5 linked regions of the Homo sapiens genome follow. The protein of the gene in region 3 purifies or fractionates together with the protein of the main gene of each other region. This does not show direct contact. Each region holds a gene or a part of one and is shown on either strand. Other genes may lie near its edges. The genes, in order: EDEM2, CCDC88A, BRINP3, SENP1 and ATG2B.

What was found.
Region 1: the proteins of BRINP3 (region 3) and EDEM2 purify together in Homo sapiens (affinity purification with mass spectrometry; 2 studies listed by BioGRID and IntAct, with this or other methods). This does not show direct contact.
Region 2: the proteins of BRINP3 (region 3) and CCDC88A purify together in Homo sapiens (affinity purification with mass spectrometry; one large-scale study listed by BioGRID and IntAct). This does not show direct contact.
Region 4: the proteins of BRINP3 (region 3) and SENP1 purify together in Homo sapiens (affinity purification with mass spectrometry; one large-scale study listed by BioGRID and IntAct). This does not show direct contact.
Region 5: the proteins of BRINP3 (region 3) and ATG2B purify together in Homo sapiens (affinity purification with mass spectrometry; 2 studies listed by BioGRID and IntAct, with this or other methods). This does not show direct contact.

Annotation. Positions count from the first base shown.
Region 1 is NC_000020.11:35,119,821-35,123,340, forward strand, and holds part of EDEM2 (ER degradation-enhancing alpha-mannosidase-like protein 2 isoform 1 precursor), read right to left. Parts: intron 1-3,520. UniProt on the Homo sapiens protein: Involved in the endoplasmic reticulum-associated degradation (ERAD) pathway that targets misfolded glycoproteins for degradation in an N-glycan-dependent manner.
Region 2 is NC_000002.12:55,409,856-55,413,375, forward strand, and holds part of CCDC88A (girdin), read right to left. Parts: intron 1-3,520. UniProt on the Homo sapiens protein: Bifunctional modulator of guanine nucleotide-binding proteins (G proteins). Acts as a non-receptor guanine nucleotide exchange factor which binds to and activates guanine nucleotide-binding protein G(i) alpha subunits.
Region 3 is NC_000001.11:190,097,148-190,100,521, forward strand, and holds the end of BRINP3 (BMP/retinoic acid-inducible neural-specific protein 3 isoform 1 precursor), read right to left. Parts: intron 1,988-3,374; coding exon 871-1,987; 3' UTR 511-870; downstream 1-510. UniProt on the Homo sapiens protein: Inhibits neuronal cell proliferation by negative regulation of the cell cycle transition. Promotes pituitary gonadotrope cell proliferation, migration and invasion, when overexpressed. May play a role in cell pituitary tumor development.
Region 4 is NC_000012.12:48,064,564-48,068,083, forward strand, and holds part of SENP1 (sentrin-specific protease 1), read right to left. Parts: intron 2,403-3,520; coding exon 2,364-2,402; intron 1,118-2,363; coding exon 1,033-1,117; intron 658-1,032; coding exon 502-657; intron 1-501. UniProt on the Homo sapiens protein: Protease that catalyzes two essential functions in the SUMO pathway.
Region 5 is NC_000014.9:96,356,841-96,360,360, reverse strand, and holds part of ATG2B (autophagy-related protein 2 homolog B), read left to right. Parts: intron 1-3,520. UniProt on the Homo sapiens protein: Lipid transfer protein required for both autophagosome formation and regulation of lipid droplet morphology and dispersion.

The sequences.
Region 1 (3,520 bases), on a different chromosome or scaffold from region 3:
CCAAAAAAAATGTGTTTATTGCTTTCAAATACCTGAAGAACTGTTGTAGAGTTGACTTCAAGGGTGGCCTCAGCTCAGTATGTTTTTCTACTTCATCCATCTTTTCTAAGAGACAGAAGAACCCCTGTCTCCTTTCTATACCATCATCTCCCCCTGACCTTCTCCTGTCCTGTTTCCTCCTGGGCTTGATCAGTGCTTCTGTCCCTTTTGGCTTATTGCTGCAAACTCTGGTTCTTATTTTATTCCGTTAATTACTTTTTTGTGACAGAGTCTCACTCTGTCACCCAGGCTGGAGTGCCATGGTGCGATCTCCGCTCACTGCAACTCTGCCTCCTGGGTTCAAGGGATTCTCATGCCTCAACCTCCCAAGTAGCTGGAATTACAGGCATGCGCCACCAGCCCTGACTAATTTTTGTATTTTTAGTGGAGACAGGGTTTCGCCATGTTGGCCAGGCTGGTCTCAAACTCCTGACCTCAAGTCATCCGCCAGTCTTGGCTTCCTGAAGTGTTGAGATAACAGGCGTGAGTCACTGCACCCAGCCTCTAGTTCTTATTTTAGAGAAAAGGTCTCTGCCTATCTCCCCAGTTCTCTCTTACTTCCTCCTCCCCTCTCCTCACAGGCCTCTAGACAATTGCTAATCTAATTGCTCATATTCTAAGGCACAGACTAGGGTACATTCATTACTAGATGAACACATTCTGTGTGTTCAAAGGCAGAAAAGACAGTGCCCTCATGGGAGGCCTCCTCTTCTGCTTCTTTTTTCGGCTTCTTCTTTTTTTTTTTTTTTTTTTTTTGAGAGGGAGTTTTGCTGTGTTACCCAGGCTAGAGTGCAATGGCATGATCTTGGCTCACTGCAACCTCTGCCTCCCAGGTTCAAGCAATTCTCCTGTCTCAGCCTCCTGAGTAGCTGGGACTACAGGCACATGCCACCGTGCCCGGCTAATTTTTGTATTTTTAGTAGAGACAGGGTTTCGCCATATTGGTCAGGCTGGTCTCGAACTCCTGACCTCAGTTGATCCACCGCCTTGGCCTCCCAAAGTGCTGGGATTACAGGCGTGAGCCACCACACCCAGCCCTCTTCTGCTTCTAGCAGCTGGTGGGCCAGTGCCCTCATGACCAGCCATCACGCTTCTCTCCTCACATGTGGGCCTCCTAAGCATGTTAGTTATTGCTTTACTTTCCTGTGCATCTGACCAACTCTGTCGAGCAGTGGTCCCCAACCGTTTTGGCACCAGGGACCAGTTTCATGGAAGACAATTTTTCCATGAACTGGGCTTGTAGGAGATGGTTTTGGGATAATTCATGTGCATTACATTTATTGTGCACTTTATTTATATTATTATTACATTGTAATATATAATGAAATAATTATACAATCCACCATAATGTAGAGTCAGTGGGAGCCCTGAGTTTGTTTTCCTGCAACTAGACAGCCCTATCTGGGGTTGATGGATGACAGTGACAGATCATCAGGCATCAGCTTCTCCTAAGGAGCACACAACCTAGATCCCTCACATATGCAGTTCACAATAGGGTTTGTGCTCCTATGAACGTCTAATGCCACCACGGATAAGACAAGAGGCGGAGCTCAGGCAGCAATGTGAGCGATGAGGAGCAGCTATAAATATAGATGAAGCTTTGCTTGCTCACACGCAGCTCACCTCCTGCTGTGTGGCCTGGTTTCTAACAGGCCATGGACTTGTACCGGTCCACGGCCTGGGGGTTGGGGAATCCCTGCTCTAGAGGAAGGAGACAGCCCAAAGTTCAGATTTGGACTTAGAGGAAGGTAAAAGCCTGCAGAGGCCTTTAGGCTAGGCTCTGTGCTCCAACACTGCTGATCAGAGAGACATATACGAAAGTACAGGGCTCTGGCCAATTTAGTGAAAGAGTAGTCCTTATCTCCTATTTGCCATTGTTTTGGGGTAGGAGGGATGACTGGATTAACGCACTCCTGGATTCCTGACAGCGGTGCCTTATGTTTTTTTTTTTTGGAGACAGGGTCTCACTCCATTGCCCAGGCTGGATTGCAGTGGCGCCATCATGGCTCACTGCAGCTACGACCACCTGGGCTCAAGTGATCCTCCCAGGTAGCTGGGATGGGACTACAGGCATGCAACACCACTCTTGGCTAATTTATTTATATTTCTTATAGAGACAAGGTCTTGCTATGTTGCCCAGGCTGATCTTGAACCCCTGGGCTTAAATGATCCTCCTGCCTCAGGCTTCCAGAGTGCTGGGATTACAGGCATAAGCCACTGCATCTGGCCAGTAGTGTCTTACTTTCCATGAATGCCTTCCTGCCAGCCTGTCCCAAATGGAACAGGTTGCCTCTGTTAAGTAGCAAGCTCCTTGTCACTCGTGGTAACTAAGCAAAAACTAGATAACCACTTGACAGGGCCATATTAGGAAAATTCCAATTAGAACACCTCTCAGGTTCCCTCTAACCCTAAGATTGTGCAAGCCTATGTCTTACATTTAGTTCCAAACCCTAATCTTTACCTGTTGGTAACACCAGATACGATACCTTCTCAGAGCTTCTTATTTTTAAAATTTACTTATTTATTTTTTTGAGATGGAGTTTTGCTCTTTTTTGCCCAGGCTGGAGTGCAATGGCGTGATCTCAGCTCACTGCAACTTCTACCTCCCGGGTTCAAGCGATTCTACTGTCTCAGCCTCCCCAGTAGCTGAGATTACAGGTGCACGCCACCATGCCCAGCTAATTTTGTATTTTTAGTAGAGATGGGGTTTCACCATGTTGGCCAGGCTGGTCTCAAACTCCTGACTTCAGGTGATCCACCTGCCTTGGCCTCCCAAAGTGCTGGGATTACAGGCGTGAGCCACCATGCCCAACCAAGTTTCCTGTTTTAAAAACATGCCATGAGAACAAATGCATGAGAAACATCAATAACAGTGGCCTCTAAGGAGTCAAAAGTTGATGAATTTGCTCTTTATTCCCTCTCCTGGTCCCCTCTACACCTCCTACGATAATCACTTGAGTTAGAAGAGGAAGGAAATGGGGTAGAGGAAGGCAGGATAACCAGAAGGCCTGTCCCATGGCTAAAAGGCAATTCAGGTGGGAAAGTGGGAAGTGTCTAAGACAATGGGCTCATAGCCTGTTTTGGGGTGGGGGATGACTATGTGTGCTGACTAAGCTTCCTTCCTTTGTCCCTCTTTTTCTTTCCCTCCTCACAATTTTCAGCTTCCCTGAAGTGAATCAAATGACATTAGGGCTAGAAAGGAACCTATGAGAGTGTCTCAAATATAGTCCTTTGCTTGATTCTGAGCTGCAAATGGGGAGGTGGAAGAGACTAGGTAATTCCTAAGGTCCGCCCCAAAGTTCTAACATTCCATACACGTAAGCATAATTTATCTGACCCATGGACTTAGGAAGCTTGCCTACACTTCTGAAATCCTGATGGCAGGAGCTCAAAAGGAGTCAACCTTGGCCTTTTCCTTCTCACTCATTTCCTGATTTGAAAGAGCATATGGGGCCAGTCGCAGTGGCTCACATCTGTAATC
Region 2 (3,520 bases), on a different chromosome or scaffold from region 3:
TCAGCCTCCCGAGTAGCTGGGATTACAGGGGCCCGCCAACATGCCCTGCTAATTTTTGTATTTTTATTAGAGACGGGGTTTCACCATATTGGCCAGGCTGATCTTGAACTCCTGACCTCAAGTGATCCACCCGCCTCAGCCTCCCAAAGTGCTGGGATTACAGGTGTGAGCCCCCAAGTCTGGCCTACCTCCCCACTTTTAAATGACACTCCAGGTGCCCAGAACTTTGCAATTTCTTGCCCAAGCACTTCTAACTCAATTTGAAGGCCCACACAGGCCTCTTTCCTAGGTCTGTCCTTAGAAAAGACTGTGCTACACTTGTGTACACCCTTGGGCCAAGGAGTACTTGTTTGGGGATGGGAGTACAAGAGCTTAGACCTTGTGCGTGCATGCAAGGTGTTCACAGCATGTACAGGAGACCTCTTTGTGGTGCTAGAAAGAGCCAGAGATGACGGGAGGAGGTTGGGCTTAACCACACTCTGCTGCAAAACTGTGAATTTATGAATTCTAAATTCCACAGATTTTAAATTTGAAACTTTCAAGTCATTATGAAGGTATATTTATCAAGAGAAAAGACTAGAATATAGATAATGATTTGTTGGCCTGGTTTATAAGCTTTAAATATTTAGGCCTATTGTGGTAAATGGATGCTTATCCTGGATCTTACAAATGTTAGGGGCAGATCTCCTCTCACTCAGAGTGAAGTTGATGGGTTTTATCCACCTATTTTTATTAATTATTAAAGTAGGCCAGGCACACTGGCTCACGCCTCTAATCTCTGCACTTTGGGAGGCTGAGGTGGTGGATAGCTTGAACCCAGGAGATTGGAACCAGAATGGGCAACACAGCAAAACTCTGCCTTTACAAAAAACAAAAAACAAAAAAAAGAAAAGAAAAATTAGCTGGGCATGGTAGTAGTCCTAGCTACTCAGGAGGCTGAGGTGAGAGGATCGTTTGAGCCCAGGAGGCAGAGGTTGCAGTGAACCAAGATCTCGCCACTGCATTCCAGTCTCGGCAAGAGAGAGAGGCCTTGTCTCAAAAAAAAAAAAAAATTATTAAACTAGTAAAATAGATCTAAGAAGGCATAAAAATAGAATCAGGAATAAAGAGAACATTTAAAGTAATTTTCCAGTTTCAATAACTAGCTAAATATTAAATGATTGATTCAGGATTTAAACTTTCAAGCCCATGTTTTTGTTTTTGCCCTCCCACCACTCTGACTCTCCAAAAGCAGCCAGTTTACTAATTAATAAATTAAGTATTATACAGATGTCCCAGTACCAAGTATAATCTCAAATACTATTTCTGAATATTGAAAACTTAATGCCTAGAATGGTATCAAACTGTTTCATGGATCCTAAAAGAAAGTCAGCTGGTGTCCTTTTGAAAGAACTGGTCTTCCTTTCCATTTATCCTGTGAGAACTAGTCTCCCATAATATATATTAAGAGAAAATTTTCAGTTAAAAAATTTAAAAATACTCTCAGGTATAACAACTAGTTCACCTGTTCTTCTCTAGGTTCTCATCATTTCTGTAGTTTAACTACATATGAATCATATTGAGAATGAGGCAATCACAATGGACTTTTCTTGAAGACAGTCCAATACAAAGCTGTGGACAAAAAAATCTCAACATGGCCCAGGCACGGTGGCTCATGCCTGTAATCCCAGCATGAGATTTTGGGAGGCTCAGGTGGACAGATCACTTGAGGTCAGGAGTTCGAAACCAGCCTGGCCAAAATGGTGAAATCCCGTCTCTACTAAAAACACAAAACTTCACCAGGCACGGTGGTGGGCACCTTGTAATCCCAACTACTCAGGAGGCTGAGACAGGAGAATTGGTTGAACCTGGGAGAAGGAGGTTGCAGTGAGCCGAGATCACGCCACTGTACTCCAGCCTAGACGACAGAGTAAGACTCCGTCTCAAAAAAAAAAAAAAAAAAAAAAAACTCAACATATTGGACAGGAAAGTTATTGGAAACCAAACTGAAAGCACTGTATATTCTAATACTATAAAAAACCATGGACCATGAAATCTTGCTCCTATCACCTTGCCTCAAAGGAGATATAACATCGGTGGGAAAAATATCCAATAAAGGTAATTAAAACAAATACGGGGAAAGAGAGAGAACAAACAAAAAGGAGAAACAGAAGACAAACTAAAAAATAAACTAAATTCTACAGTACTAAAACTAGAAGGTATTCTCAAAATTTTGAAAATTAATAAAATTGCAGCTATCTTCACTTATTCCTTCAACATTTACTTACAACTTACGACATGCCAACTTCTATGCTAGGTGCTAGTGATACATGCTAAGTACTAGGTTAGGTGCTAGTAATATGTGAGACAAAACATCTAGCCCCTAAACAGTAATACTGCAAAGCAATAGCTACGCAGGTGAAGGTACTTCCGAATCATAAGGAAGAAAACAACTCTGCCTGGGGACTTCACAAGGTATTAAAGGAAGAGCAGGAATTGGTTAGTCAAAGAAAAGGGGAAGGATAGTCTAGAGCAGGAGTCTCTAACCCCTGGGCCATGGATTGGGTCCATGGCTTGTTAGGAAAGCCACACAGCAGATCAGTGGTGGGCGGGCAAGCATTACTGCCTGAGCTCTGCCTCCTGTCAGATCAACAACAGCATTAGATTCTCACAGGACCACAAACCCTATTGTGAACTGTAGATGCGAGGGATCTAGGTTGCACTCTCCTCATAAGAATCTAATGGCTGATGATCTGAGGTAGAACAGTTTCATCCTGAAACCATCTCCCCTCAGCCTTGCTCCATGTAAAAATCGTCTTCCATGAAACCAGTCCTTGCTGCCAAAAAGGTTGGGGACCGCTGGTCTTGAAGAAAATAATTCTAATGATAATAATATAAATAAAACAATAAAGAGCTAACATTTATTGGACACTTTCTATATGTTAAGCATTGTACATACATTATTCTATTTGATTCTCATAACAATCCTGTGACTTTTTATCCCACTTACAAATTAAGTAACTTACTAAAGATCATACAGCTATATAGAGGTGACACTAACAGAGATCATACAAAACTAAGCTGTCGGCCAGGCGCAGTGGCTCATGCCTGTAATGCCAGCCACTTTGGGAAGCTGAGGTGGGAGGATCACTTGAACCCAGGAATTCAAGACCAGCCTGGGCAAAAAAGTGAGACCCGGTCTCTATAAAAAAAATTTTAAAAAATTAGCCAGGTGCAGTAGCACATGCCTGCAGTCCCAGCTGCTTGGGAAGCTGAGGTGGGAGGATTGCTTCAGCCTAGGAGTTTGAGGTTGCAGTGGGTTGCGATTGTGCCACTGCAGTCCAGCCTGGGTGACAGAGTGAGATCCTGTCTCAAAAACAAACAAACAAACAAAAAAACTAAGCTGTGAACTATCATGATTTACTTGAGGAGCCATAAGTAGGTAGATATAGCATAGCACAGGATAATAATAATGACAGCAACCAGCACTGGGGATATAGTGGGTCAACAAAACAGAAAATAGACTTATCTGTCCCTGCCT
Region 3 (3,374 bases):
ACAACTTGTGAACTCTAGAAATGTTGTTTTATTGACACTGGTAAAGTGCTGGAATAACTAGGTTTTCAGGATTTGAAATTAAAATAATTGTGCCGAGTGTGCTGATTATTGGTTCCTAGAATGTAGAAAGGGAAGGAGAAAGCAAGCAAGTTGCTAAGGAAATTAAAGGTTTGCTTTCTCCATGCTATGCTTTATTATCACACTGATTTTTCTGTATGTTTGCTGAAATATTCTGATGTTTGAGAATTAGTTTATCTGAGTACTTTAATTACAATTGTGTCTCTAGTATTGGTTTCCCAAGTACAGGTAATAAACATACTACTGTCGTTGTTCTGTTAACCATAAAAAACAACTGAATAGTAAGTATCCTACCTACTTGGGTTTTCCATAAAAATAATTGAAAGAGACCTTCAAATATTTCCATTAAAAATTCTTGGTGAATTTTCCCCAGGTTCTAACAAACTGTATCAAAATAGAACTCATTTCATGGAAAAAAGGAATCCCACAGCATTTCTTTTTAATAACTGTTCAGCTACAAAATTTTATTGGTATCTTTTTATGTTCCCTCTAGAGGATGTAATGCACAAAAGCATTGCCACGGAACATATAAAATTACAAATGAAATTTATTGTAAAAAGTAGAATGTCTTCTAGACTGGTGTCAGTATTTATGTCATTCATAAACCAAAACTGCTGTATAATATATTCATTGTCAGCAAGTTCATGTGTGTAAATTGCCATCCAATGTTATTGACTGATATAAGACAGATATTGAAAAGACAATTTAAATTTACTCTTCCAAACATAAACTGTTCCACAAAAGCACTGTAAAAACTCCTTCAAGATTTTGGGTTGTGCTTGACATTTATGGTTAACTACATAATTTGGTCGTGTCATAATCCATTGTGTTTGGCAATTTGGCATTAAACGCCTGCAGAGCAGATTGGATCCTCACCACCTCACTAGTAGACAGCTTGAGTCTATGACGAAGCAAGCAAGAGAAAAGATCTAGACGACGCTGACCAGGTGGGGAGAGTTTATTTACACGGTCTCTGATCTCTAGTAGTTGCAAAAGTGCTGAATCCTGGGATCCCTGAGTATAGGGGTAGTCCAGCTGCAAAATCAGGTCCCGAATTGCTTCAGGGTCAAAGTGCATGCTGTAGCCAAACACTTGAATGTTATTGATTTTCATATAGCCCAGGTTCCGGGAAGGGTCAATAAACTCCAGAGGTTCATAGTAAATGCTCTCATTACCATTGGGACCATTGGACTTGATGCGACTTCTCAGGTAGATGTGTACTGTCTCAAAAAATGTCTTCCATTTGTTCCCCAGAGTTAATGTCCAGTTATAACACTGCAGGGGTAGGTCCAACTTAGTCCGCTCCCAGTCTGGAAAGCTGTTTTCATTCACAGGCATAAACCAGCTCTCAGAGTGGCTGCCTCCGAAGGGATTGACATAAACAGCCAACACTGGCTCCAAGGTGCTGTTTTTAGTTAAGCAAATCTGTAAAGAGAGACCCAAAATCATATGGACCAGACTTGACTTGTACTTATTGCTCTTCAAGGTGAGGAGCATCCGCTTACGCCAGGAGGGATCAAACCAGCTATTGAGGCGCATGTCATTGCTGATAAAAATGGCATGGACTTCTATTCGTCTGTCCGTTTTCTGCAGCAGATATTTCATCTCGAGATCTTGCAGGTCAGTTTCAAAGCCAATATAGTGATCGGTGGACTCGGCGACTTCAGGCTTGCAGAGCCCCTGGCTGAGCATGTAGCCGGTGTTGCAGGTGCCGCAGCGGGTGCGGTTGTCTGGTGCGCATGTCAGGCAGGCAGAGGCGTCTCCCACTGTGCAGGGCAGGAACGCGGTGCAGACCACCTGGTCATTCGGACACGTGCACGAGTGCGTCTCTTCTGAAAAGCTGCCTAGGAGGCCGTTCTCATTGCAGTAGAGAAAAGACTGGATGCGAGTAAGCCAGTAGGTTGAGGTTCTAGAAATACAAAACAGAACGAATCTACATAAATACAAAGATATTCTGTGTACTGCAGTAAACCGTAGCTCAGAAATCTTTGCTATCATTTCTTCAGGTCATCTCCAGCCAGTAATTTAAATGAAATAAAAGATTCATAGAGCTCATAATTAGACTATATAATACACACACACACACACACACACACACACACAGACGTGTGTATGTATATTCCATTTATCACTGCACAAAACAAGATTAGAGCTATACTTGGTCTGAACTGCAATACATTTCTAAATATGTGATATCTTCTAAAGACATTGCATGCTATCTCATTAGTGCACATGGAAGACCATTGTAAATAAAAATGGGTCATTATTGTTTTGAAATAAGAAGAAGAAAGGTAAGTGATTTTATCATAAAATATCTGTAGGAGAATTAGAGCATATACATGGTGATTGTTCATTCATTTACTCTTAGCTTTATAAACCACTAGTGTTGCAGGAAGGATGAATAGAAAGTAAAAGAAAAATGAAAGAAAAACAGCTCTAAATTGTCAATCAGTGTATTTAGATGCTAGGGTTGTCATCAACATTGAAAGAACAAGTACCCACTCAAAGAAATATTAAAACATGTTTATTCTTACAGGCTGCTCAAGAAAATAGTTGAAAATATCTCATTAAAATCAACAAGCTCCTTCAATAAGGGGTAAGTGTGTTAGTTTAATGTGTTTGATTTGAGTCATTAACATTTTTTTTCTCATCAGGTTAATCATGATTCCTTTTTCAAATCTCACTTTTCTGATTTTCTCGCATTATTTAAACTATTTTGGTGTCTTAAAACCAGTAAAATAATGAGGGAAGAGCAATGGCCTTGTAATAACACAATTCCTTGTTTTCAGTTTGTTGCTTTCTCATACTGCATGTATGATCATGGGAAAAGTTGCACAGCCTCTATAACACACAGTTCTCTCATATGAAAAATGGGAATAGTAATATCGTCCATGTTGAGATTTTGTGAGAAATAAATTAAGGTCAAACTCTATGCATGTACTTAGAATATTGCAAAGTGTCTGTTTCACAGTAGATACACAACAATTCCATTTTTGGTATTCTTATGCTTTTTTGGTGTTCACATTTAATACATTTTGGATTTCCTGCAAAATATATATGCTGTACTCAATCCTTTAAATATCTACTTACTGTTTTTCATAGTGCATTTTTCTGCTTAAGATTTTGTATTACTGTGTATTTACTTATTTATATTGTTTTTCTCATTACATATAATACCCATTTGCCAAAATCTTGTATGTTTTCTTTCATAGCTACATAACCTGTGCCCAGTAGAATGCCAGGAGATAACAAGCCTTTAATATTTATTGAATATTGAATAAAATGCATGGATTAGC
Region 4 (3,520 bases), on a different chromosome or scaffold from region 3:
ATAGTTCTTTCATAAATTTTCAATATTTTAAAAATAAAGCCCAGATTGGTATATAAAATAAGCGAAAGCTGAAATATACAAGAAAATTTAAATAACACGTGTTCTATGGCTTTTTGTGTGTGTGTGTATGTGAGATGGAGTCTTGCTCTGTCACCCAGGCTGAAGTACGGTGGCATGATCTCGGCTCACTGCAACCTCTGCCTCCCGGGTTCAAGCAATTCTCCTGCCTCAGCCTCCTGTGTAGCTGGGATTACAGGTGCATGCCACCACACCCAGCTAATTTTTGTATTTTTGGTAGAGATGGGGTTTTACCATGTTGGCCAGGCTGGTCTCGAACTCCTAACCTCAAGTGATCCACCCGCTTCAGTCTCCCAAAGTGATGGGATTACAGGCGTGAGCCACCGTGCCTGACCACTATTGCTTTTATGTTTGAAACTCATCCGAGGGATTCTTTCTAAACATGATACTTAGTAGTGTAGAAATTAAGTGTATGTAACTTACCTCTGTAATTTCAGGAAATTCATCTTCACTATCAGTTAATTTATGACCTTTTTTTTGTGTTTCTTGGACAACAGTAACAGGAATCTCCTTTTCAAGAGGTACACGAAGATGTAGTTCTACTGAATCATGTACTGAATGTTCCCGCTCCTGCAATCTCTGAAAGATAAAACTTCAGAGTAAGTGGGATAAAGAAATCTGTGGATGTTCCTTGATTTATGATAGGGTTATGTCCCAATAAACCTGTCATAAGTCAAAGAGCGTGCTTAAATGCCCATTGCTTTCGCTTTTTTGTAAAGTCAAAAAATCATTAGTCGAACCATCACAAGTAGGGGACTATCTATATTTGTCTTATGTACAATGAGTAGCACTGACTGGACAGACCAAGAACATTTACGACATATCATAACATGCTATGCTACCATACGATCTTGGAATTACAACAGCAATTACCCAAATCTGGGTAACTTTCCAAAATAGTTTCTACTTTGATGTACTATTTATTTGTAATATTATTCCAATTTTCTTTTTTACCTGGTTTTGAAGCTGTAAGGCCAATGCCTTCTGTTCTTCAATCTGGCGCAATCTTTCTCGTGCTCGAGAATCATAAACACTAGTTCTAGAAAATGAAAAGGAACGTGACCAAATGTAGACCACTCTCATTATGAAACATATTGTTGATGTACACTGAATATTAAATACAGGACCCTCACAAAGAAAGTCTAAAATCCTTACACTAACTTATCATCCTTATTTTAAGACATAGAGTGAAACCACATAATGTTACTGAAATTACTCTACCATTTTTACTTATTATTTTTTATAGAGATAGGGTCTCACTACAGTGCCCGGGCTAGTCTCAAACTCCTGGGCTCAAGCGACCCCCCTACCTTGGCCTCTCAAAGTGCTAGGATTACAGATGTGAGCCATTGCACCCGACCTATTTTTACTGAAATTACTAAAAATATTAGTGTGCTGCTAAATGTGAACAGATGACTTGTTAACATTTGTAAACACACAGTTCTTTTCTTAACATGCTTTTAAGATTATAGTGAAAGCGAAACTTCAGTCTGGAAATCCAAAAATGGGATTGAACCCTAAAGGAGAAACGAATACAAGATATCACTGAAGTTTAATTCAAATACTTCATTTTTGATAGATTTTTAAAAAATTACCGAGACCGAGGGGTTTGGATAACTTAAGTTCCTTAAGTGAGACTAAATGCTTTCAGTGATTTTGCAAAGTCCAGAAATATGAATTATTCAATAAATTAGTTTTACAAATGCCAAAATAGGATCATTTATTTTCCCTATTATATAATAGCTAACTCTATTTTTCCAATTTAATTTAGCTTCAACAATTGTTATAGATTTAATAAACATAAGTATAGAAATGTTCCAACTCCAACAATATTTTGAAAACCCAACAACTTAAAAGTATAAACAGGCACTTCTTTTTTTTTTTTTTTGAGATGGAGTCTTACTCTGTTGCCCAGGCTGGAGTGCAGTGGCGTGATCTCGGCTCACTGCAACCTCCACCTCCCAGGTTCAAGCAATCCTCCCGCCTCAGCCTTCCAAGTAGCTAGGATTACAGGCGCGTGCCACCATGCCCAGCCAATTTTTGTATTTTTAGTAGAGATGAGGTTTCACCATGAAGGCCAGGCTGGTCTTGAACTCCTGACCTCAGATGATCCACCTGCCTCAGCCTCCCAAAATGCTGGAATTACAGGCGTGAGCCACCGCGCCCAGCCTAAACAGGTACTTCTTATTGGCAAAAAATAAGCAGGATGATTAGCTAATTGTTTGATTTCTTCTAACTAAAAATGAACTGATTGAGAAGGAAAAATGATACCAAAAATAACTTACAATTCTTTGATCCACAGCTCTGCCTGGAAGAAAGTAGAACTATGGGTAGGAAAAGAAAAATTTGACAAATGAGCAGGAGGCTTATGAGAAAATTAAAATATTTTCATCAATAAAAACAATCATTTAAATTGTTTATATGAGTGCTTTACAAGTATGGAATAAGTAAAAGGAATCTAAATGACATAAAATAATTGTAACTAGGAATTAAGGAGACACAATCCTTATGCATACATATTAGTTAAAATCATATGGATACATATTAGTTAAAAAGGTGACCCAAAGTTCAGCAGAGATACTACATTTGGCATAGCTCCCTACTTGCATGAGACCAACATTACGTGAAAGAGGACATCACTTCTCAAAATAATACATTAAGCTAGAACATTGCTCTTCCCAAATGACTCAGATTGAAAGATTTATTAAAAATCCCCACACACAAAATAATCTACATCAAATGGCTAACAAGCCAATGAGCCAAAGCAGAGAATCAGCAACACAACTTCCTTCCAAAGATGACAGGCCAATTCTAGGTCCATGTGGCTCTGCTGACAACCCAAGTGATATGCTGAGCAGAGCCACAGACATGATTAATTGTCCTAGAGCCTCTTGTTTTTCTCAAACTTCCTTATCTCCAAACTCCTAACTAGGCAGGATCTATCACAGAAACACAAAGAAGAAGAGTGAACACTTTTCCAAAGAAAACTATTAAATATAGAGAACAAGTAAACAGAGCATCAAATTGGGAGTTAAGAGACCTGGATCAGAGGCCAGGCATGGTGGCTCATTCCTGTAATCCCAGTGCTTTAGGACGCTGAGGTGGGAGAATCGCTTGAGCCAAGAGTTCAAGACCAGCCTGGGCAACATAGTGAGATTCTGTCTCTTAAAAAAAAAAAAATGATCTGCAACTAGAATAGTGCTTGGCACAGAGTAGGCATTTAGTGTTGTTTGTTTGTTTTTTGACTCTCACTCTGTTGCCCAGGCTGGAGTACAGTGGCACAATCTCGGCTCACTGCAACCTCCACCTCTCGGGTTCAAGAGATTCTCCTGCCTCAGCCTCCTGAGTAGCTGGGATTACAGGCACCCGCCACCACACCTGGCTAATTTTTTCTTTTTTTTATTTTTATTTTAGTAGAGACGAGGTTTCACCATGTTGGCCA
Region 5 (3,520 bases), on a different chromosome or scaffold from region 3:
CTTTGAAAAGTGGTTGCTTTCTTACTCATTATTAAAGTGCTATCTTTATTTTGAAAAGACAGATTAAGTATGTTTTGTTTTTTGGAAAATATCTGCTAGGTAGCATGTACTACTGATAGTCATTGTCATAAATACATAAATAGTCAGTGGAGAATTCTTCTCTGTGTAAAAGGAAAATGCTTATCTTTAAATCCAACCCTTAAACACTTGGCCATAGGAGAAACCAGGAAACCAGAAGGTAATTGCCATTCACTTTCTCTTTACAAAGATTCTACTGTTTAAAGGTCTGGTTTTATTCTATAGAATGTATGTGGAAATGTTTCAGTGTGCAGAAGTGGAAGGAACATCCAACTGAGGGCACCACTCTTAATCCTTCTCTGTTGTGGAACTACTAGTTTTCTCTTTGTACCAGTTTGATATGTGGCTTGAAGGAAGGTGCCAGTGCCCATTTGTATATTAAATATAAGTACAACTTTTCAATCTAAATTTGGAAAATTTAATATAGAATGTCTCATTTTCCTCTCACATCCTTATGAATCATCTGATAATACTTTAGGATATATGCATCCAGTTTTGGAGATTACTACCTTAAACGTGGCATGAAGTGGAGGGAGAAATAGAGGCAAGGGGTTTGGGATTGTTCCATCATTGGAATAGACTGTCTAAAAATTTCATAAACTCCTTGTCCCTAGAAGTGGTTGAAATGGCAAAATGTTGAAAGGAGGAAATTCTATTTGGGGTGGGAAGTTGGATTTAATGACTCATTCCTTTTTAACTCTATGACTGTGCCTTTATTTTTGATTTTTAAATGGAATTTCTTTCATTAATCGATTCAGTACATTTATTGAGCTCTTAGCATGTGCCACTGTGAGGGGCTGGGGGATATAGCAGTGAACTAAACAAAGACCCTTTTCTTACAGGAGCTCAAGAAGATACACATTAACAATTTATTACACTGAGGCCTTTTATTTTATTTTTTTTTTGAGACAGGGTCTCACTCTGTCACCCAGACTGGAGTGCAGTGGCGTGATCTAGGCTTACTGCAGCCTCAACCTGCTAGGCTCAAGCGATCCTCCTACCTCTCCTCCCCTCCCTGCAGTAGCTGGGACTACAGGTGCATGCCACCACACCTGGCTACTTTTTGTATTTTTTGTAGAGACGGGATTTCGCCATGTTGCCCAGGCTGGTCTTGAACTCCTGGACTCAAGCAGTCTGCCCATGTCGGCCTCCCAAAGTGCTGGGATTACAGACGTGAGCCACCACGCCTGGCCACTGAGGCCTTTTAACTTCAGTTTAAGAATGTTTCGATTGCTGCTTATATTCTCTTGGTGTTTAATAAAATTATCTTCAGTTCAAGAAACATTGATTACTGATTATTTGTCAAAGGTCACCTGGAGACTAGAGTGTTACCTTCACTTTTTCTGTTTATATGCGTGAAACTCATTGATGATAATTGAAAGCAAAATACCCTTAAACAGAAGAATAAAAAGCTCTAAAGGACTCTATGGTGGGGCATTTATTTGCTGAGTAGTTCAGGTGTCTCCACTTTTAGTTTAAGAGTTATTTTCTCGTTAGCATAGTGGTGACTAAAAAAAAAAAAATACTTGATAGGACTGGTGAGGAAACACTTCATAGGACTGGTGTGGAAAATGTTGCTTGAGCCAAGTAGGTTGAGAATTTTTACTACTCATATACTATAGTAGCCTTGGATTTTCCCAGAATGACTGAATTTCAAGGTACCTTATGCTACAAGATATATGGGATTTTGCTCAAGTGGTTATAAGACTGGGCATAAATATAACCTATTTAAACATCTTATACTTAGGGAAATTATTTTGTAGCTTAGTGGTGCAATGTAAATTCTGGAACTGTTGACTCTCCAAAACTGTTAACATTTATCAGTTTTTTTCTTTTTTTCCTTTTCTTTCTTTAGAGACAGTCTCTGTTACCTAGGCTGGAGTACAGTGGTGTGATCAGCTCACTGCAGCCTCAAACTCATGGGTTCAAGCGATCCTCCAATCCAGCCTCCTGAGTAGGTGGGGACTACTGATGTACACCACCACACCCAGTTAATTTCTTTTAATTTTTGTAGAGACCGGATTTCACTATGTTGCCCAGGCTGATCTTGACCTCCTGGGCTCAAGTGATCCTCCCACCTCAGCCCCCCCCAGTTTCTGGAATTACAGGCATGAGCCACCGTACCAGGCCCCTTTAATATTACTCTTCACTGCTGTAATAAACCTTTTTGTATTTAGAGGTTTAACTTTATTTCAACTTCTCTGCCACAAAATTGGGACGAAAACTTGGTGTTTACTGAGAAGAGAGTTCCATCAAGTCCCGTTTCTCTCATAGTTGTCTAAGGTTGACAGTTTGCAGAAGCTAAGTCATTGCCTCCATATGTTTTAAACACTGTTAGGTTTTTAATAGTTCATTTTTACTATACAATTAATATATGCTCATTACAAAAAATTCAAACAGTAAAGAAATATATGAGGTATGAAGTAATAGAGCTTAATCCCATCTCTTCCAGAGATAACAATATGGTACAAAAGTTTCAAACTTTTAGTTGTGGAAATACTTAATACATGAAGCAAGCAGTTCTACTTACCTTTTGAAGTCTTTTATGATGGGCCATTTTTTTAATGGAATGTGTCAAACATTCTTAAAAAAAAAAAACTATGAAAAAATCTGAAAAACACAAGTAGAGGGAAGAACCTTGATGACCGTAACTTGTGGTACCTAGTTGATGGTGAAATAGGAAATTCTAGAGAAGGAGCAGGTTTTCTCCACTGTCTGGAGTTGGGAGTGGGAGGAGGAGATTGAGATTGGACAGAGAATAAGTTTTACTATATTGATTTTTGAGGGGGCTTTAGAATGTGGGGGCTTTAGATCCAGGTAGAGAAGCTCAGGAGGCACTGGGAATATACGTATAGGAAGATTGCAGTTGTAAAGATATGGGAGTTATCAGAGTATCAATAGTGAATAACAGTGGCAGGAGATGGAACTGCACAAAGTGCGTGGGTAGTAAGTAGATCAGCTTGAGAAACAAAAAAGGCCGAAGATGAAACTTAGATGAACTCCAACATTTTAAATTGTAAAGGATCAGAAAAAAGATTGAGAGAGTGAAGTGTTACAGAAGTCAAGGGAAGTTAGAATTTCAAAAAAGGTGAGTGGTCCTAGGAACTAGGTAGAGATGAGAATTCAATAAAGATGAGGACTAAATATTGTTTATTGCATTTGTCATTTTAATGGTGGTTACAAGCAGTTTCAGAGGAGCTGAGGGTTAGAAGGTCGCTTGTAGTTTGCAGTTTGAGCAGATAACTACCTTGACAGAGAAAATGGGGTTGATGGCTAGGGGGAACATGGAGCAAGGTTAGGGGTTTTAGTTTACTTTTGAAAATAATAATGATCATTTATTAAATACCTTCCATCTCTATATACTGTACTGTGTGGGTGCTTTTACATACATTATTTTACTCTAAATTGGGTACTAACTTTCTGTTTACTGTGAGGTTAAATA